Linked DNA regions of Homo sapiens. The protein of the gene in region 1 interacts with the protein of each later gene in a pairwise test. Each region holds a gene or a part of one and is shown in the gene's direction. Other genes may lie near its edges.

Region 1 (7,106 bases):
GAGAGAGCAAGCGCAGGCGCCGTCTCTGATTACTGAGTCCAAAGATCAGTTGTGTACTGAAGGCACCAGAAGGCAAGCTCCAGTTGACATGAAAATGGCCTCACAATAAGGGTGACACCAGCTCTCATAGGTCTTTCTGTTAATTAATACTGACTAGCAAAACATGAAAATCTAAAAGTGCCATGGCCACTTTATATGCACAACTCATATATTTTGTACATATTGTTAATAATTACTCATTAAGCAATTGGTAGAAAGCCACAAGCCAGGACTCCTGTTTAAGAAATGTGTGGCTATTTCATTTAGTTTTAGTATGTTTGAAGGAAATGGCTACTAATCTAGAAAAAATGATTGTCTCAAATGGCCAGTGCAGTTGATATTAAAGGCAAACTTATGCCCTGTGTGCAGATGCTGGGAAACCCTTATGAACAGAACTGTCCCCTGGAGCGTCCGTCACTCATTGTGTGGAGCAGTGTCTTTCTCCATTAGCACTGTGTGGCAGTTCATTCTTTGTATGAATCTGTGAATGGCATATGTCAGCCCAATAAGACGACATTCCTATTCTGAGTAATAAATAGACTCCTTGTTTTGTTTTTTTTTTCTCGGAGATCACGAGACAAACAAAACATGATTGGCTGTCTAAAAATTTTCTTTGAAATACAAATGAAAATTTTAAAGTAAAATATCACAATATATTTTATAATATATGATTTCTAATAGGACAGAACAGATACTGCCAGTTTGAACAAGCACCACATATAGACAGCGCAAACTCTCTTTTGAAAATTCTGCCCTCTTTGTGGTCTGAGGGATCCCAAAGCTGGAAAGACCCATTTGTCTTTTCTCAGAATCCTCTGTCCCTCATCTGAACTTAATGCTAGGATTCTCTGAAGTAAACCCCACAATTTGATTGATCTATTTTGGAAACCCAAGATCACCTAAGCTGTATTCCGCACCCATTGCAGTTTTCAGCTCAGAATGGAGTTGGCATCTGTGCTCCTGGCCGGCCTATTCTTACACTTGCACACTGTCTGGCCAGAGCTGGCCCTGCCTCCCCACAGGGACAGCAGATCAAGGGGTGAGTGTGCCCGGCCCACCTCCACCCTGAGTAGAGAGTGGACTGAGCTATGCGGAGGCGTGGGGTGGGGGCTGGAGGGAGAAGAGCAGAGGACAGATCTGGAGCTGACTGTGCAACTGCTATAGCAGGTCTGACTAGTTTGAGGTGCCCAAAGGCAGCTTTGTTTCTCTAGTAACTCCAGGTAGCAGCAAACTTCAGTTCTTAAAACTCATTCATGTCTGCCTTACTATCTTTTTTGTCACTTTACAAAAACCTGTAGCTTTGCAGAGTTACTAATTAATTCTAAGCTTTTTTCCTTTAAAAACCTTCCTAGGCAGTTAACTGAAAAGAAGCTAAGCATTCTCTAAGGACTTTCCCATAGAATAGTAAAGGGGAAGGGATTCTGGTTCTTACAGACATGATCTATGTCTATATATTCTGTATATCCATATGCACACTCACTGATGTTTAACAGTGGGCTGAGTGAACCTGTTGAAGAAAAGTAAAATGTACACTTGAATAGACCATGGTCAAAAACACTAAATGATCAAAAGTCTCTTGCTCCAGATCAGCCTTTAGCGCTTTGCTTGCCTCTGCTCCGGCCGGCTGCTTATCATTCCACGCCATGCACTGCAGCTCCTGGGGTTTGGAGCAGGCCTGCTGGTGTACCCCACCCTTGTGTTTAGAAGTATTGCCCAAGTTAAACTCAGAGAATCTGAAAGTCCCAAGGTCATCTCTACACCAGAACAGGTTTGCATAAAATCCTAGTCACGCTAATGAGATATCGAGCTGGCAGCTGCTTTAAACTGATCTTCCCTGTGTGGTTATCCCATTTTATAATAGGTGATACAGATTTGCTTTTCAGATTTCTTTCCTTCTTTGAGGGGACATCTCCCTGCCCATCTGTACCTCTCCTGTGTCTTCCGTGCTATCAGAGAAAACCAATCTGCCTGAGGAATTTGGGTGCTATGATCCAGAGTGGAAGAATTTTTGCTCTGCCTCTCTGCTTGTCAGGAACTTGGTGGTCTTTTCTGAACTTTTTAAGGCAAACTAATTTTTTTAAATAGTTTTACCATGTCCAGAAATATAAAATAAAATACGTTTCACTGGCAGTGATTCTTAGCTCTCTGACAAGTAGTTGGTTTACACATTAAAAATTCAATTCTTCAGGTGGTTCCTGCCTCCTTCTAAAGCTCCAGAAGACAGGTAGAATGAATAGAGTGGCAGGCTGGGGGTGGCAGGCTGGGGAGGTTGAGGAAGGCTTTCCATGAAGACCATTGAAGGTAATTGAAGAATTATGAAGTATTTTCCTTAGAAAATAAATAGTTATTACATTTAGTGTGGTACTCTGATTATTTTTATTGTATTTAAGTGACATAGCTTAAAGTTCAATGAGCCATTCATTATCAATGCACAGAAGTCCTTGGGAAGACAAACATTTTATCTCAAAATAGTCCCAAAGTAGTTATTCTTTAATGGCTGCCATATTTACAAAGTATCATTTACTCCCCTCAAGTTTAGTTGTATCCTCATTGCCTTTTTCTTTCTACAATTATTGTCTGTGTGTGAATTATTCAGGTATATGATACAAAGTTTAAATTGTCTTTGTAAAACCTTATTAGCCTACCTAATTCTTAGAGGCAACCAAATTAAACATTCGGAACATGTAGGTTACTTACATGGGACAGGTATTACATAAAATAGTTATTTCCTTCCATTTGCATGTCTCAAGTATATTTCTATTATCCTGCACCTCAAATTTTTGTACTCATGTCATGTTGTAGAAATGTGATATTGTTCTCTAGGGAATCCAAGTTTAGGCCGTACAATACAATGTTCAGTTTTACACAGTAAGTAAAAGAAACAACATTTCTCAGGTTTTCCTCTTTGGACTGCACGGATAAGTTATAAGATGAAATATGTTCTGTATTTGTAAGGAATATTTTAAGTGATTCTTTGATAGTAATGAAGCATCCAGATTTGAAGGCATGACTAGTTTTTAATTTTTAACTTTTAAGAAAAGCTTCCATTGAAGCATTTCTTGAAGTAGCATACTTTACTTTTATTCCTTAGTTTTATTCAGTGGCAAATAGTTGTCTAATAAAACCTAGAAGGCCACCTTTGGTTTTAACTAAGATGTAATTTTATCTTTCACAGAATTGTTCTAAAACCTTATATTTCCCTGTTTTAGTAAGACTTACATATATCTTGAGTCTTTTTTTTTTTTTTTAAACACAAAAACTGTCACATACTTTTGGCAAAGCCTTTCCTTTCTACTCTAAGTTCCCCACCTCCTTGACATTGTTTATTAAGGGTCTCTAGTGTGAGGGAGAAAAACAGTGTATCTTTAGGGAAAAGATGCTACAGGAGGATTGAAACAGAATCCCATCCAAGCAATTATAAATACAGGAGAAAAAATATTTTCATTATGCCCGAGAATGGGAGGTTGGGCAATGCTGGCTAGTCTTTACTAGTAAAGCACGTAATCTTATGGGAAAAATTGTCAAATCTGAGAGTTCCTTACCCTAATGTTAATGAGGCCTTAGACTCAAAATGCTAAAAACATACTCTGACACCAAATTATTATGAAGTAGTATCACAATTCAAATGATTATAAAATATAGATATGTTTATAGTTTCCAATTTTCAAATGTGGAGACTCATTATAACATTTCATCTATTATGAGCATTATTATTGAACATACAACATCATATAACCTGAACTTATAATTTAAATAGAAAGAATCCCAGCAAGTAGTTACACATAATGATCTCGCTTCATCATCTCCCTAAGGTTAACTGTGTTACATTTTATAATTAAATGGCCCCTCTCCAATGTCCTTTATGAAGGGTTTTCCCAAATAACTGCCTGAAGCAGTATCTGTTCAGTATGGAGATAATTTATAGTTATTAAGAAGTAGTAAGTAGGCCCAGTAAAGGCGTCTATCTATACTGGTAAAAGCTTAGTGCCGAATTTATTGAGACTCATTGTTTTATTGGGAGTCCATGTTGCAAGCCCCACTGGAAATTCTGAACTGTTGGTTTCTCCACGTTCACATCTCATGACTTGGGTGTGTGTTTGTTGTTGTGTGTTTGTTCTCATTTCAGGAATCCTCCAGGGATTTTAACCATGGTTTTTGAAATACCAGTATTAACTTTTATATACAGAGAAACAACCTTTCCTATACACAGTACTTCCAGAGTTTGAACCGTACCATAATTTAATTTATTTTGGCCTTGGCAAAGCTCCCAGCTTGCTTAGCAGTGTCCTGTGGATACCTGAATTTGGAAACAATCTTGAAAATGTGTATACTTTGAGAGAGCTGTAGGTAGAAATTGCAGTGAAGAATGAGACTTTTGCGCTCCTTGCTGCTCGGCTGCGCCCCCTCGTGGCTGGATGTGATGTGCTGTCTTCCAGAATTTAAAGAGTTCCAACTTGAATTGGGCGTGCTTGTTTACATGGAGCACTAATAGCTTTCTTCTGTGTGAAGAAAAAAAAAAAACCCTATCAAATTAATATAATAGTTTTCACTGGGGGTGTGAGTAATTTATTGTGCTCATTTTATATGTTTTAATTTAGAAATATGTATTGGCGTGCTGTGGTTTTTAACTTTTTATTATGGAAAATTCCAAACACATTCAAAAGTAAAAGGAAGAGTACAAAGCACCGCCTTGTACTTATCAGCCAGCCTCAGCAGGTATCAACATTTTGTCAAATCTTGTTTCATCTACATGGCCAGGTTTTGGGTTTTTTTTTGTTTGTTTGTTTTGGAGTATTTTAAAGCAAATTCCAGGCATCAGAGCATATTATGTTTTTGTTAAGTTAAGGTTAGAAACTGTATAATTCTACTCAACCTTTTACTTGAATTAAGTGTGCCATTCCCAAGTAATCCTTTTTCCTTATAAATTAAAAAAAATTCCTTAAAACTGAGAAAACAAAGCATTTTTCTAATTTTTTTTTAAATCAAGTGTACCATACTTTTAGCCAGAATCCTTAGATAAAATAAAACAATTGGCAGCATTCTCATTGTCCTTGGAAGAAGGTAATTGGTGTCCATAGCTTCATAAGAGTTGGGATTAAAACTTAAAATTCCCAGCTGGCAGAGGAACCACTAAGACAGGATATAAGAAACATTTTATACCACTTGACATTTATATTCTAAAAAGCCTATTCTCTTTCCAGATGTGTACTAACAAGGCCATAATTTATTCTAAAGAAATATTTACTTGAAACATTCCCTCCCAGAATTTGACTATGTTTTTGCTTACTAAATGCAGCTGTCAACATTTTTAAAAAATTATTTTACTAGGAGAAAAGTTTATATTTGACAAACCTCCAGTATTGGAAATTGCCTTCAATTTAATAGGAGCATGTAAAAATCTGAGAGGAGAAACTAGAATTTTAAAAATTTGGACTTTAGAAAACAACCCCAAACAGTAAAAGTTGTTTCTTAAATTTACTTGGGGCTTGACTTCCTGTTCGAATTTCAGTGTATCGTCAGGCTTTTTTTTTCTTCTTCTTCTTCTTCACTGTCAAGAAAGCCGGGAGGATTGCTCCTGCAGGTCTTCGTCAAATGCAGGGTCTCATCTTGCACAAACAGCCTAGGCTGCGTTGCCCTGCGGGCCCCCGCGCGGCCGGTGCGCAGCGGGAGAGCCCGGAGGAGGCGCCGGCAGCAAACAGTGGTATCGGGTTACAGGTTCAGAATATCGCTGGAGCACAGGAGACTGGCTTGATCTAGTGACTGGCTTTATAATTACATTGCTGATTTGTTAGGGGAGGCTTTGTCTTACTTACCAATTAGCATGGATGTTACTGCAGGGACCTCAGACATTCTGGATGAGCTTTGGTGTTTTTTTTTTTTTTTTAAAGCATCCCGATCCATAGAACTTCATGAGTTCTGTTACTAATACTCCGCCTTGTCTTTGGGCATCCTTACTTACCCTGTCTGTAAATAAGCCAGAGACGGTCTCTCCCTGTTGGAATTTTTGCCCACTCCCCTGGGCCAGACGCAGTTGTTTTGGGGTCTCAGGTTTGCTTTTGCTGTTTGGATGCCCCAGCACCTTCCCGCACTGTGCTGGAGGGGACAGCCCACATCCCGTGCCTGCTGCAGTGTCAGGACACGCGAGGCCCGGCTGAGGACGCGCCTGTTTCTCTTAGCTTCCTTTCTGATTCTGCCAGTATCATCCACCACTGCAACCTTTTCAGGGCAGCCTCTTTGTTTTCGCTGGTGTGTTTTATTGTTCCTTGGGGGAGGAGGGTGTTAAAAGCCTGGACATGATCAGATTTCTTAGTCCAGTGTGTTGTTTAAGGTGTAATATTTGAAGTGTAGAAAGTTGTCTAAGCAAACAGCTTCCCCCAGTTAGGATCGGGCTTCTCCTTCCTGCTCGGAAGTTGCTGTGTCACACTACGACAGCAGCCTGGAGGCAGGGCTCTGGGGTCCTCAGCGTCCCGCCCTCAGGCTGGTGGGAGGTTCCCTTTTGTCATGAACAGAGGCTCTCCCACTTGGATGCCTCAAAAGCAGGGTCCTAAACGCACTGGGAGACCAGCCTGTGGAGTGAAGAGAAGAGAAACAGCATATTCTGTGTTTCAGAAGTTGTCTCAAAACAATCCTGGCCCTACTTTGAGCCTCTTTTCGGCTCAGAAGTCTGCCACATGCCCAGCTAATTTTACCAGGGGCACCCCTTTCTTCTACCACCACCACCAAAAGACACCAGGAGTATGAATGTGTTTCCACTTAGGGCTGTGGGCTTTGGTGGCACAGTATGTCAGGGGAAGGGAAGGACCGCTGCCAGCCTTCTCATAAGACAATCGCCACACTTCTTTTTTCTTCCAAAGAGGTGGGTACATGAGGGCAGATCACTACTTTGAGTGTTGGCGTTGGGTTAAAGGCCTCATCTTTCTGGTTTTAGCGTTAGCATTGACACCTCTAGACTTGTCAGCAACCAGTGGTCACACCAGCAGCCATATGGGACAGTGTGTCTGATGAGGTTAGGGATACAGCTTGGTGTTTTTTTTGTTTTGTTTTGTTTTGTTTTTTTGGAGACGGAG
Region 2 (7,183 bases), on another chromosome or scaffold:
AGATCACCCCACTGCACTCCAGCCTGGGTGAGAGAGCCAGACCCTGTCTCCAAAAAAAAAAAAAAAAGAAAGAAAGAAAGAAAAAGTTCAAACACACAGATAATTGGAGGACTAGTGCAAAGGTATTCAAATAGACATGCCCAGATCCCACAGTTAAGGTGCTTTGAATGTAAGATGCTAACATGATGACACCCTCACTCAAAGACATTAGCAAAACACACTCTCTGTTTCCTTCTCTATCTAGTTTATTCTCCGTCTTTCCCCACCAGGATGTGAGCAGCACAAAGGCAGGGATTTTTGTCCATTTTGTTCAGTGCCTGGGATTACACGTGCACCAAGAACACTGCCTGGCACATAATGAGTGCTCCTAGAGTTTGGAGAGAGAAAAGACAAGACAGGTGCTGATTCTGGTTCTGCCTCTCGTTGACACTGGCAACTGGCACTGCCTCTCATTGGCAACTCTGGGGATAATTTTCCCTTGTGGAACCTCATTCTCTTCATCTACAAAGTGGGGATGGCAGTACTATATCACAGGGCTGTTGCAAGGATAAAAAAGTAAGAAGTCGGCTGGGGGTGGTGGCTCACACCTGTAATCCCAGCACTTTGGGAGACTGAGGCGGGTGGATCCCCTGAGGTCAGGAGTTTGAGACCAGCCTGGCCAACTTGGTGAAACCTCGTTTCTATTAGAAATACAAAAATTAGCCAGGCGTGGTAGTGCACGCCTGTAATTCCAGCTACTCGGGAGGCTGAGGCAGGAGAATCAGTTAGAACCTGGGAGGTGGAGGTTGCCGTGAGCCAAGATCGCGCCACTGCGCTCCAGCCTGGGTGACAGAGGGAGACTCTGTCTCCAAAAAAAAGTAAAAGGTGTGATATTGCACTGTTAGCATGTTAGTTAGATTTCCATCTAGCTCCTTGAAGGAAAAGATTAGTCTAGTCTGACCCTCTGTGCTCTGGGCTCTTAGAGGGCAGACGCCCTCCCTGATGTATGGGAGGAGCCTAGCACAACACCTCAGGAGAAGTTCTTTTGACTTTAACTGCTAGCAGCTCCATCTGCTAGCACTACAGAACACACTCCCTCGTGCTTACTTGCCCCATCCCTTTACTTGCTCATTCAATGCTACCTAATAATCCCCTCTATTCCATCTTTTGATTTATCTACTCATTAAATGGTTTCCACCAGAAATACCTAGGGAAGGGATACTTAACTTCATCAGGTACTGAGATTCTATTTTGTGAATGTCTTCTGTGGATCTTTGACTGTTTCCAGCAATTGATCCAGCCTCTCTTGGCCTTTTCTGCATTTTATTATTTATTTATTTATTGAGATGGGGTCTTGCTCTGTCGCCTAGGCTGGAGGGCACTGGTGTGATCTCAGCTCACTGCAACCTCCACCTCCTGGGTTCAAGAGATTTTTCTGCCTCAGCCTCCCCAGTAGCTGGGATTACAGTTGCCTGCCACCACGCCTGACTAATTTTTTTGTATTTTTTTGTAGAGACGGGGTTTCACCATGTTGGTCAGAATGGTCTCGAACTCCTGACCTCAGGTAATCCACCCGCCTCAGCCTCCTAAAGTGTTGGGATTATAGGCATGAGCCACCACACCTGGCCCTTGTCTGCATTTTAGATTCACCTGTGTATCTGCATTTCCAAATGTGCTTTGCAAAATCCTGAATGCAAGGGTGGGTGTTTGTTGAAGAATGGGACACCTCATGTTGCCCCTGTGGGTTTTCTCAGGAAGGAAAGATTGCTTGGCAGTGCGTGGAATGCATGGCCTTTTGCAAGCTCCTTGATAACCATCGCTCTAACTTTGCTTGTTTGGGGTGTGGAGGCAAGATATTTTCATTGAGAATTCTGAGTCTTTATCCTTTTCTCTCCACTTCAAGCTGAAACTTTTTTTTTTTTTTTTTTGAGACATGGTCTCGCTCTGTCACCCAGGCTGGAGTGCAGGCGATCTTGGCTCACTGCATCCTTGACCCCCCGGCCTCCCCTGCACAGTAGCTGGGACCAAAGGCATGCAAGACCACACCTGGATAATTTTTGTATTTTTTTTAAAGACGAGGTTTCTCCATGTTGCACAAGCTGGTCTTGAACTCCTGAGCTCAAGTGATCTGCCCACCTCGGCCTCCCAAAGTGTTGGGATTACAGGCGTGAGCCACTGTGCGCAGTCAAGCTGAAACTCTTAAGCAAATTTTAAATCTTACTTTAAGGAACAATTTCCTCACCTGTAAAATGGGGACACGAGGATATGATGGAAGTGAAGTCACTTTGTAACTGGTAAAGCTCTGTACAGATATTAGTTAAGATGGTTAATTTCATTAACCTGTGAAGATTCTTAACTAAACCTTGCGCAAGTTGCATTGGCTGCCCTGTCTAGGCACTAATATCTTTAGACGGACTAAGGAGGAAACACACTTTTTTTTTTTTTGAGACAGAGTCTGGCTCTGTCACCCAGGCTGGAGTACAGTGGCATGATCTTGGCTCACTGCAACCTCTGCCTCCTGGGTTCAAGCAATTCTCCTGCCTCAGCCTCCTGAGCAGCTGGGACTACAGACTATGGCCAGCACACCCAGCTAATTATTTGTATTTTTAGTAGAGATGGGGTTTCACCATGTTGGTCAGGCTGGTCTCAAACTCCTGACCTCAAGTGATCCACCCGCCTCAGCCTCCCAAACTGCTGGGATTATAGGCGTGAGCCACCGCACCCGGCCTACACGCTTCTTTTCACAAGAATGACACCCGCAACTATACTTCCCACGTAAATGGAGAGCAGTCTGGCAGATTCATCTAGACCTAGGGTTGGGTGATTATTAGGGAAAGAAAAGGTCCAACCAAGCCAGTGGGCTGAAGAGAGGACATGACCTGCTCAGTCCGAAGCAGATGTGTGACTAAAGTCTAGTCTCCTGGCTTCTCTGCAAAATACCTCATTATCGGCATTATTAACCCTAACAACTGCCATTTATTGAAATCCCACTATGTGCACGAATGGGGACCAATTTACTTCTAGATATTACAACAATCTTGTATTACTGTGCCCACTTCCTGGATGATGGGTCTGAGGTTCACAGAGATCATTTGCCCAAGTTCCTACTGAAAGTGCTAAGGTATTTCCTGAGACTGGCTCAGGGTGTGTTGCCAGACAACAATGCACACATTTTTAACACAATACTAAACTTAGTATATTATACTTATGTTAAAAATTTCGGAGCCGGGCGTGGTGGCTCACGCCTGTAATCCCAGCACTTCGGGAGGCTGAGGCGGGCAGATCACTTGAGGTCAGGAGTTCGAGACCAGCCTGGCCAACATGGTGAAACCCCGTCTCTACTAAAAATACAAAAAATTAGCTGGGCGTAGTGGCGGGCGCCTGCAATCTCAGCTACGCGGGAGGCTGACGCAGGAGAATCGCTTGAATCCGGGAGGCGGAGGTTGCAGTGAGCGAGATCGTGCCACTGCACTCCAGCATGGTCGACAGAGCGAGACTTGTCTCAAAAAAAAAAAAAAAAAGGACATGTGGTAATTCCCCTAGGGAATTTGGCCTTAGTTGTGAAAAATAAAAAAGCTATAATCAATTTCTGTTCTATCGGAAAAAAATGTATTGGCTGTTTAGCTGAAATTCAAATGTAACTTAACATCCCGTATTTTTTATATGCTACATCTGGCAACCCTGGCTTGAGGCTACCTGGCAAAAATCAAAACAGGTTCCTCCTTGTTATGCCCTATGCCTCTGTTGCCTTTATTTTTATCTTTACGAGCAATCATTAACAGTAACTTCAGACTCCAGGCTCTGGTCGCTTTAGGAGGCGGAAGGCGGACTAGGGTAGGACTCCTGGCCCTCATCAACAGGACTGCCAAGAAGCCGGGCACCTTCTGCCCCGCACAAACATGGCCGCGCCTCGCCGCCGAGGATTGGCTCCCGCCGAAAGCTCGTCCTCCTGGCTAAGGGAGCCCCTTCCATTGGGCAGTTAAAAAAAATGGCGGACCCCGCCTCCCGCCGTCCTCGGGCGCGGGGGCGGAGCCTAGAGGAGGCCTGGGACAGGGCCACCAGTGATTGGCGGAGAGCGGTGGTCAGGCCATCACGTGGCCCGAGGCCCGTTTGTTTGCGGAAGTAGGAGGAAGTAGAAGTGCTGAGTAAGCCGAGGTGAGTGACCTCGCGGGTGGGCGGGGCCTGGGGGTCCGTTCCCCAACTTCCTCGGCGCTCCGGACTCCCAAGTCTCCGCCGGACCCTCCTTTGGATATTCCTCGTGTCTCCGATTCTGAGGCATGTCCTCCATTAACCCTTATGTGACTCCCTGAGTGCCCCCACCTTCCATCTTTTCATCCCCCTGCGTCCCCAATTCCCATCCCGAGACCGCCCGTGTCTCATCTCGAACTTGTGGACCCCAGGGACCCCAGCTTCGACCCTGAGTTTCTCCCCTGAACCCCAGTCTCCTCCGTGTGTCTCCCTCAGTATCCCTAACTTCCCGAGTCAATCCATCTCTTCTCTTTCCCCGACCCTCAGTGCCTCTTTAGGCCCCATTGGCCGTCCTAATTTTCCTTCCTGTGCTCCTCTAAGTGCTCACTTGATTCCCCACTTCACGTCCGTCTCCACCTTTCGTGGTGCCTCTACTCATTTCTCACTCCCTGCTTCTCCTGCCTTTCCTCCCTGCTTTTTTTCCTTGCCTTTCCTCTCTCGCGTGCCTCCAGACCTGCCCCCGACATGCTCCCTCCTTCCCCTCAGCCTGGCCACCCCAGAGTCTCCCACCCCTAATCCTGTGTCCACCTCCTGCTCCCACAGATGACTTGGAAGCTGGTGACAGGGAGCATGTGACCAGGGTGATCATGGGACTGGGTCGGGGCAAGCCTGTGGGTGTGGGACAGGGAGGGCACAGGGCAAGGGGACCTGTGGCCGTATTTTTAATGGGCTACCCACATGACCCCAACGAATACCTCCCCCTAGCTTCTGGGTCTTTCCCTCACCTGCCTCTTACCCGCCCAACAGGATGTCAGGCAGGTTCGGTTTGGCAACGTTGAGGCTGCACCCTTGGGCTGAATGCATTGTTTTTGAATGCATTGTTTTTGTTAGAGTTTCTGCCTGGAGTTTGGAACCTGTTTTCTGTCCAAGTCTCAGTTTCCTCATCTGTGACAGGGGAACTGTACCTCCTGCCCTCGTAAGTCTGCCATGAGGTTCAAAATTTGAATGAGAAAATGTAGAAGGTAAAGCTTTATAACCAGTATGGCCCTGTACAAATACATGATTTTACTGTTGGGTCATAGGCAGAATTGAAAGGAGTGGAAAGGGAAAGGGCTAGAATGAGAAGACAAGGAGAGAAGGATGAGCAGGAGGTCCCTTGTCTTTCAGTGTATCATTTGGCAGTGTTTGTTCATCACCTCTTGTGAGTCAGGCTCTTCTGTATATGTTCTCTTCACCATTCATTCAGTCATCGTTTATCTAACAAATATTTACGGACTGTCTGATGTTCTAGGCTACCCTTGGTGTGGCCAATGATATTCTCACTTCACATGAGAAAAAGAGGGCGCATGAGTTGCTTGAGGTCACACCGATGAGGTTGAAGCTGGAATCTGACACCAGAGCCTGTGTGATTGTCCTGATGTGTAAGGTTTGCTACTGTTTAGGACACTTCTTGTTCCTTCCGTGGATTACTTTCTTGTTACATGAGAGACTCCCCAAAAGGGAGTTTCCCTCTTACTCAGCAGAATGACATCACTAAGAGATACAGAAAGGAGAAATTTAAATACTCTGTGTGTGTGTGTGTGTGTGTGTGTGTGTGTGTGTGTGTGTGTCTGCAGACATCTATTGGGTGTGTGTGCTGGGGGAAGTAGGTAGGCAAGGAGTAAGGGGCCGTAGTGAAGAGTGTGTTACAAACTTCACTTTGTAGAGGGTGGCTCCCTGGGAGAATATGTTCTGTGTCTTTCACAGTGGATTTTGATAGGGTCATGTCTTAAATGCCTCTTCTCGTTTTCGGATGGTGATCTCATCCAGTCTTATTTCTTTAAGTGCCGTCTCTATTCTGTCAGCCCACAAATTTATATCCCCAGTCCAGTCCAGACCTTTCCCTGGAATGACATACTCAAATCTAGTTGCTTACTCAGCACCTCAAACTTAGGCTTTTCAAACTTGAAGTATTTATTTATTGATTTATTTATTTTTTGAGACAGAGTCTCACTCTGTCACCCAGGCTGGAATGCAATGGCACGATCTCGGCTCACTGCAACCTCCACCTCCTGATTCTCCTGCCTCAGCCTCCCAAGTAGCTGGGATTACAAGCATGCGCCATCATGCCCAACTAATTTTTGTATTTTTGTAGAGGCGGGGTTTCACCGTGTTGGCCAGGCTGGTCTCGAACTCCTGATCTCAAGTGATCCACCTGCCTTGGCCTCCCAAAGTGGTGGGATTACAGGTGTGAGCCACCGCGCCAGGCCTCAAACTTAAGAGTTTAGAATTGAGCTCCTGTTAGTTCTGCCCTCCATCCCTGACCCCACTCTTCACCAAAACATGTCCCTCCCACTCTCTTTCTCATCTTAGGACATAGGAGTATTGTTCATTCAGTTGCTCAGGTCAAAGCTGTGAGATTATCTATGATGCCTCTCTGTTTCTTACCCCACACCCAGCCAGAGTGATCTTGTTAAAATGTTGTTTCTTTGCAGTGGCCTCTCCTCTCATGGCACATGCCTGGCCCCCTGTTGCCTCTCTGATGTCACTGGCTTCCTTGCTTTTCCTGGAACTCGCTAAACATGTTCCAGCCCCATGGCCTTTGCACACGCTCTCTTTGCCTAGCTATTCATATGACTTTCATCTCTCTCCATCAGGTATTTATTTAAGATCAATTTCTTGGTGAAGACTTCTCTCCTCACCCAATCTAAAATTTCACTCTCCACCTCAGCACTTCCTATCCCCATTCTCTGGTTTTTCTCCTCAGTAGTTAATTGTCATCTAAAACCTTTGTAAATATTTACCTGTTTATCTTCTTTATTATTAGTAGCTCTGTCTAAAATATAAGTTCCAGGATGTCAGGGATTTTGTGGGGTTTTTTTTGGTTGGTTGGTTGTTTTGGTTTTGAGACAGGGTCTCACTCTGTTGCCCAGGCTGGAGCGCAGTGGTGCGATCTCAGCTCACTGCAGCCTCCGCCTCCTGGGTTTGAGTGATTCTCCCACCTCAGTCTCCCAGGAAGCTGGAATTACAGGTGCAC
Region 3 (7,248 bases), about 170 Mb from region 1:
GGATTACAGGCATGAGCCACTATGCCCGGCCTTGGCTAATTTTTAAAAAATATTTTGTAGAGATAGGGTTTCCCTGTGTTGCCCAGGCTGGTCTCAAACTCCTGGCTCAAGCAGTCCTTCTACCTTGGCCTCCCAAAGTGCTGGGATTACAGGTGTAAGCCACTGCACCTGGCTGAAATTCTCAGGTTAATTACATCAGCAGTCATTAATGGCTGTGCTTGTGAAAGAAGAGGGAAATGCCTTCTGGCTTAATAGAACTCCCACGTGTCTCTACCATCCAGAACACAGGTGGAGACGTGATATTGCCGGGGCTGCCAGCTTGTAAGGAAGGAGCGGGTCAGGACTCCAGGTGTCTTAGCAGGCAGTTGATTACAAATGCGATTTTCAAGGCCAGCTTTGTGAGGCAGAATAGTGTCTGCGTTTGTGCAGCCAAGGGAGAAAGGAAGCGTTTTCTTCGGCTCCTGCTGTGAGATCTCTCCCCAGCTGCCAGAATGGCCAGTGCTGGAATTCCACCAGGTGGCACAGAGGGAGGGAAGCAGCCTGCGCCCAGCAGGACCCCGGGAAGGGACAGAAGGGCAACCTGGCTGGAGCCCCATCTCAGGGGCATGTGCTCTGTCTCCGCAGGCCACGTGGTGCTTGCGCAGTGCCGAGTGCTGATGGCCAGTGTGGGGGCCGCGTGCCACTCGGACCACGGGGACCAGTAAGTGCTCTTCACAAACCCAGTCCAGGGCATAGGGGTCCTCCGGGCACTGGGTGTGGTGGGCAGGCGGCAGGATCCGGCCACTGGGCCGCACTCTGGCTGGTGAAGGACAGCCCTGTCTGGGCCCTAGGAGGGGCAGAGGGAGGGCTTCCTGGAAGAAGTGACTTCCAAGCTGCCATCTGAAGGACTAGGACTTGTGCGGGAGAAGAGGGCTTCTCGTGCTCAGTTCTGAAGGCGGAGGGAGGGCAGGGCCTGGAGGGCCAGCGTGGCCGGGGCTGGGGAGGGCTGGGGCGGGCTGGGGTGGGCTGGGGTGGGGATGGCCTGAGTGTCAGTGCTTACTTAAACCTCATGGAAGTGGGAGCCCTGAGGGCCATGGTGTGAGCAGACTCAGGTGTCAGATCAGCCATCTGCAAGATGCAGCAGAGATTCTCAGATAGCAGGGCCCGGGTGAGCGGGTGGGCTGCCTGGCGGAGACTGTGGGGTAGAGGGCGTGGGGTGCCCGAGCAGCGGCCTGCTGGCAGCAGGGGAGAAGTGGTTCTGGGTCTGGTCTGCTGAAAACGTGAGGCCCCTGTGGGAGGTCGGAGTGGACGCAGGAGGAACACTCAGGGTTCTGGGGAGAGAGCGGAACTGTAGCCAGCAGCACGTGGCCATCAAGGTCAGGGCAGAGGGATTGTGCAGGAGCACCTGGAGCGAGACAGTGGTGGGCCTGGCTCCAGGGAAAAGGAGGGGCAGGATGGGGCCCTTTGTTGGGGGGACAGTGCCCTGCTGCAGGAGGGGCAGGGGAGGAAAGGGACCCGGGTGTGATGAGGTCAGGCCCCTTGACAGAGCCCACATCTCGAGCCTCCAACAGCCTTGCTTCAGGATGTCCCCACGCAGTCATCTGTTCATGGCTAGATACTGACTGGGTCCCTAGTGTCTGCAAAGCCCCATGCTAGGTGCCATGAAGTTACCAAGTGGCTCAGGTGGGCCGCATGGGTAAGGCACTGTCTGTGTCGGCATCCGTGTTCTCCAGGACCTCAGACCCCTCAAGGACAGGAGAGCCCCTGGCCCCAGAGCTCAGTGCGAGAGGGAGGCAGTGTCACCTGGGAGTGCCAAGTGCAAGAGAACTCTGCAGGGAGAACGGGGGCGACTTTGAGCCACACCTTGATGTGGGTGATCTTAGGGGTGTGCTTGGTCTGGGAGTTTAGCAGGAGGTGGATGCCAGGCGAGGCAGGCGCACATCCGGGTGGGCAGAGCCCCACTAGGGGAGTGGTCCAGAGCAGGGGGGGCTGTGTCTCTTCCATGTGCCCTCAGCAGCAGCTGCAGCTCGGTCTCGCCCTCCCCAGGCCGTCCCCAGTGCTGCTGAGCTACGGTGTCCCCTTCGACGTGGCCAGGAACGCGCTCCGGCTCAGCGTGGGCCGCAGCACCACCAGGGCCGAGGTGGACCTCGTCGTGCAGGACCTGAAGCAGGCCGTGGCGCAGCTGGAGGACCAGGCCTAGCACTGGGGCCGCCTTCCCCACCCCGCTTCTGGGAAGCCCGTGGCAGGGCACAGGGTTGTCCCTCCAGTTCCCTCCTGAGGGCTGTGCCAGGATGACTGTCTCATGCCCCCTCTGCATTTTGTCCTGGAGTGCCAGCGAGTGTGCACCCCCAGTTTCCTTCCCTGGACCCCTGCAGAGCTCACAGGGCCCAGGACACCAACGCCGCATAGGACTGCCCACATGGGACCGCCCACATAGGACCGCCCACATAGGACCGCCCACATGGGACCGCCCACATGGGACCGCCCACATGGGACCGCCCACATAGAACCGTCCTCCAGTGGTGAAGCGGAAACACTTAGCTTTATCCACCCTCCCCACTGGGAACTGGGCACGCCTGTTGTGAGTGCCCTTTCCTGGAAGGTGTTTTTATCTGGAAGATAGAATCCAAGTATTTATAACTCATTGTCAGCCAAATGCTATCATGAACGTAGGAAACTTGATTTTTTTGTTTTGATCATGGCCTCTACATGCACCTTTCCAGAGTGGTCTCTTCTCAGGCCCTTTTTAGTCCCTTTCCAAAGCTGCCCCCACCACCCTGCTCCTCTGGCCTCAGTGCACAGTGGCCCCCAGCCTCGGCCAGGCCTGCTCTGCTCAGCGCCCACCGCCCACCACCCCTCCTGCTTCCCCGAGCCTGACCCTGTTCCGCCCACTGGCAATCAGGGCTGCGCACTTCCCTGTCCACGGTCCCCAGGCCTTCCTGTCTTGTCCCTTTTGATCATTATTAACTCAGGGTTTCAGCTCCAACCTCGCTGAGTTGGTGCAGCTCCAGGTCATTCCTGGGGTGGGAATCGGATCATCCCTGACTCAGCTTTTACCTTAATTTTATTTGCAGAGGATTCTTTTCTCAAAATGCTCTGGCATTTGGACACACATCACATGTCGATATTTGCATAGGAGTCATTTTCAGTGGAATAACATTTTTAATGTGTGGTTTTACGGTTCAAGGAACTACTTGATGATTTTGAGGAAACACTTGCCAGAAACTAAATTAACGAATAAAAGATTTCAGTGCCCGACTTGGGGATCCTGTGGTTTCTCTAGTGGGCACTGCGCTTGGGCACAAAGTCATCTGACAGAGCCTGTCGGGGGGAAGCCAGGGGTGCAGCAGCCCCCAGGTCACCATTGTGTGATGATGCGTTAGCCCAGAAATCCAGCTTGAGGCTGTGTCTCCGGAAGCCCCTACAAATGTAATGGGTCCCCCATCTGCAGCTTCCCATTGCTGCCAGGAAGAGGCTGTGGTGGTCCTGACTTCCCTAAAGAAGAACTATGGATTGTCCAGAACAATCTGGAAAGGGGTTAAATGTACTTGGGCCCTTGGGGCTGCAGCCCAGAGACTTGGTCCGTGTAGTTGGAGAGGGGGCCGAGGCAGGGGCTGACACCTTCTCGCCTCAGAGGCCTGGACACACCCAAGTCAGGGTCCTGAGCCCATTGCAGGCCCCGTGGAGCCACTGTGTCCCCAGAGATTCCTAGGAGCCTCCAGGGCCGAGGGCCGGGACCCAGAGGCGGGGCGCTCAGCTCTGTGGGTGTCAACACAGCCAAACATGTAGACCTACTGGGCACCCTTTACTTCAGACACACTGTGGTGGCGGCTGGGGGTCTGCCCTTCTGTGAGAGTTGGGGGAACTGTCTCCCAGGCCACTCGGGGCTCCTGTGAGAAGCTCAGTGGCGTGTATCCTCAGCCCTCGCTCCACAGATGAAGTTCCTGCCATCTGGACAGATCTGAGCAGCCTCAGGGCCAGCCTCCTTTCTCTGCTGGCCATACCCAGCCCTGACCTAGCCTGGTGTGGGCCTTTCCCTGTGCCCTGTACTCCATCCTCCCAGCTCCAGGCACCTGGCACCCTCACACTGTGGGAGTGGCTTGGGCAGGTCCTCAAGGCCTGTCCCCCCACCCGACCCCACCCCACCGCCTCCCATCTGCCCTGTGGCAGCTTATCGGGTAACCAGAGCCGGCAGCTTCATCCACGTCTGAAACAGGAAGCCCCAGCCTGTGCATGAGTCGCCACTGAGAGCCCGGGCCAGAGGATGGAGAAGCAGCGGGCACTCGTGGCCGCCAAGGATGGGGATGTGGCGACGTTGGAGCGGCTGCTGGAGGCTGGCGCCCTGGGCCCGGGCATCACCGATGCTCTGGGGGCCGGCCTGGTTCACCACGCCACCCGGGCTGGCCACCTGGACTGCGTCAAGTTCTTGGTGCAGCGGGCCCAGCTGCCCGGCAACCAGCGGGCCCACAACGGGGCCACCCCAGCGCATGACGCCGCTGCCACGGGCAGCCTGGCCGAGCTGTGCTGGCTGGTCCGCGAGGGGGGCTGCGGTCTGCAGGTGAGCGGGGATGGGGCAGCCTGGCTCCACGAAGCTGGCTGGGGTGGAACCAGGGAGGTGTGAGCCACGGAGGATCAGAGTACTGGCCACCCCGGGCTCCATGGCCCTGGGCCCTTTGTTTCTCTTGGGGACTCAGTCAGTGGTTACCGTCTCTGCCCCACGCCTCTCAGAGCACAAAGGCTTGAGAGCCAAGAACACCTCCTAAATTTTCTTATCACCTTCCCTGCCAGGAAGCTGGGCGTTGCCAGTGGGGGTCTTGCCAGATATCAGGACCCCTGTCTCTGATCAGGCCTGGTCCACAGGGCCTGCCTCCCAAAGGGTCTAGAAAGGGATCCTTACAGAAGCACTGTGGGAACTTGGGCTTGAGAGCTGGGAGCCTAGCCCTGGGGGACGGGAGTTAGGGCTGCTGATGGTGATCGTCTTGTCCGGATCGTTTCTACTGGGCCCCCCTCCCCTATCCTGCCTGCCCAGTCCCCTTTGTGCAGGCGAGGCCCTTAGAGCTGTCGCTCAGCCCTGTGGAGCTTTCAGGGCTGAGGGTGAGCAGGACTGACCGGCCTTAGAACGCCGCCGCCCAGAGGTCAGAGTTGAGGTGGGGGCCGGTGGGGCCTGCTTAGACTGCGGAGCGGGAAGGTTCCCCAGCACCTGGCTCGCCAGAGCACCTGAGAGTCCCGGCCCAGCATCCTGTTCCTGTCGGCCCTTCCGCCAAACCCAAGGGCAGCAGGCGGGAGCTGTGCCTGCCTGGGGATCCATTCTGACAGGGCCCTTGGAGAAGGCCCAGGTCTGCTGGACCCCTGACACCTGTGGTAGGAACGCTCCCTGGCCCCGGGACCCTGTGGCCAGCGGGAGGGCACTGGGGCAGGGGACCAGCCAGAGGTAGGTGTCCTGGGAAGCCTTTCTGACCATGAGCAGAGTGGGCAGGTGTCTGCGGGCACCCGACTGCGTGGGAAAGGGCCTTCTCCACACTGGGGACGGGCCCAGGAGAGGGCAGGGTTGCCAGAGGTGGCCTCCCAAGACCTGGACCTGAGTCCTGGCCCTCCTCTCACCTCAGTCCCAGCAGGGAGCACCTCCCTCCATGTTGCAGGCAGAAACGGAGGGAAGGAGGAAGGAGCTGGAAGCCCCTTCACTGGGTTGCAGGCAGTGTGAGCCCTCGCCCAGGGCCCACCTCCGGCAGCTGGCTCTGACCTCACGGCCTACCCCCCACTCACTGACCTACCCGGGGCTTGGTAGGACCAAGATGCCTCGGGCGTCTCCCCGCTGCACCTGGCCGCCCGTTTTGGACACCCAGTGCTGGTGGAGTGGCTGCTCCACGAGGGCCACTCGGCCACGCTAGAGACCCGGGAGGGAGCCCGGCCGCTGCACCACGCTGCCGTCAGTGGGGACCTGACCTGCCTCAAGCTCCTGACAGCCGCGCATGGCAGGTAAGGAGCCCAAAGTCCCGCCTGGGGGGGCAGCCTGGGGCGAGCTGGCCAAGGGGAGGCTGCACCATGGAGGGCCAAGAGGACAGGCTGGTGGCCTTTGAGGTGAATCCTGCAGGCGGGCATGCTGTCACTGTGGGGGTGAGCTGGCAGGAGCCAAGGGCAATGAGGCCTCTACCCACAGGCCAGGCAGTGGCAGTGCCATGCCAGGGCCCAAGGGGACACAGGCCAGTGCTTCAGCTTGGAGAGTGGCTGGGGGCGGTGACGATGGCAAGATGCTGCTGTGATGCCCAGGGCAGCTCTGGCCCCACCTGGGGGCATCTCGGGACCTAAAACAGCTGGGGACGTGGGCAGCTGGCAACCTGTGAGGGCACCCTCCCATCACCTGACAGGAGTGGGGACTGTCTAGTGGACTTGGGGACACAGAGGCTGGAGCTGCCTCTGCACTGCCCCACCCCTGTGCTGGGACCCCTAGAGCCGGGCGCTGGCCTCATCGTCTCTGGGGCCCTGTGCCCCCTGCTGGAATTAGTGGATGGGCAACGAGGAAGGACCAGGGTCAGGACAGCCAGTAAGGCAGATGGCCTCCCTCCCCACCTGGAAGCTCCTCCAGTCCTCGCCCTGCTTACAAAGGTCACTGTTGTCATAGGAACAGGCCCTCTGCCTCCTACTGTCTTGGCTGAGGGCGAACCTTCCTGTCCCCCAGGGACCCACCTACCTCTGACCACGGCTCTTCTCTTTTCGAGGCAGCATCTCATTTTCCTGTCGCTGCCCCAGAGGCCTCAGTCCCCCACACCCCCTTAGCTCCAGGACAAGCCCCGACAGCTTGCTTGTGGAATCGGGTTCTCATTCCCGGGTGTTCCCATCCTGGACTGCTTGGCAAAGGCCTTTGGGATTCGCTTCTGTGGCTTTTCTCCAGAGCGTCCACACCACCCTCAGCCTTGGCTGGCCACAGTCTCTCTCAGACCCACACGGCTTTTAAAGAAGTTTCCACCATTGAAAACTGGGAGACTTGGGCCGAGCACAGTGGCTCATGCCTGTAATCCCAGCATCTTGGGAGGCTGGGGCTGGAGGATTGCTTGAGCCCAGGAATTCAAGACTGGCCTGGGCAATGTAGCGAGACCTCCATCTCTACAAAAAAATTTATTTAAAAATTAGCCAGGCATGGTGGTGACTGCCTGTAGTCCCAGCAACTCAGGAGGCTGAGGTGGGAGGATCACTTGAGTCTGGGAGGCGGAGGTTGCAGTAAGCTGGGATTGTGCCACTGCACTCCAGCCTGGGCGATAGAGCAAGACCATG

The links.
Region 2: the proteins of SERTAD2 (region 1) and PLA2G6 interact in binary tests that used the Homo sapiens proteins (3 or more experiments, as listed by UniProt).
Region 3: the proteins of SERTAD2 (region 1) and ESPNL interact in binary tests that used the Homo sapiens proteins (3 or more experiments, as listed by UniProt).

Annotation. Positions count from the first base shown.
Region 1 is NC_000002.12:64,643,857-64,650,962, reverse strand, and holds part of SERTAD2 (SERTA domain-containing protein 2), read left to right. Parts: intron 1-2,396; exon of another isoform or gene 2,397-4,538; intron 4,539-5,391; exon of another isoform or gene 5,392-7,106. UniProt on the Homo sapiens protein: Acts at E2F-responsive promoters as coregulator to integrate signals provided by PHD- and/or bromodomain-containing transcription factors.
Region 2 is NC_000022.11:38,178,735-38,185,917, reverse strand, and holds the start of PLA2G6 (85/88 kDa calcium-independent phospholipase A2), read left to right. Parts: upstream 1-4,087; 5' UTR 4,088-4,254; intron 4,255-7,183. UniProt on the Homo sapiens protein: Calcium-independent phospholipase involved in phospholipid remodeling with implications in cellular membrane homeostasis, mitochondrial integrity and signal transduction.
Region 3 is NC_000002.12:238,096,177-238,103,424, forward strand, and holds the start of ESPNL (espin-like protein), read left to right. Parts: upstream 1-4,163; 5' UTR 4,164-4,243; coding exon 4,244-4,537; intron 4,538-5,764; coding exon 5,765-5,955; intron 5,956-7,248. Other genes in the region: SCLY (selenocysteine lyase), read left to right, coding at 625-700, 2,026-2,179. UniProt on the Homo sapiens protein: Binds to but does not cross-link actin. Required for the formation and maintenance of inner ear hair cell stereocilia and staircase formation. Essential for normal hearing.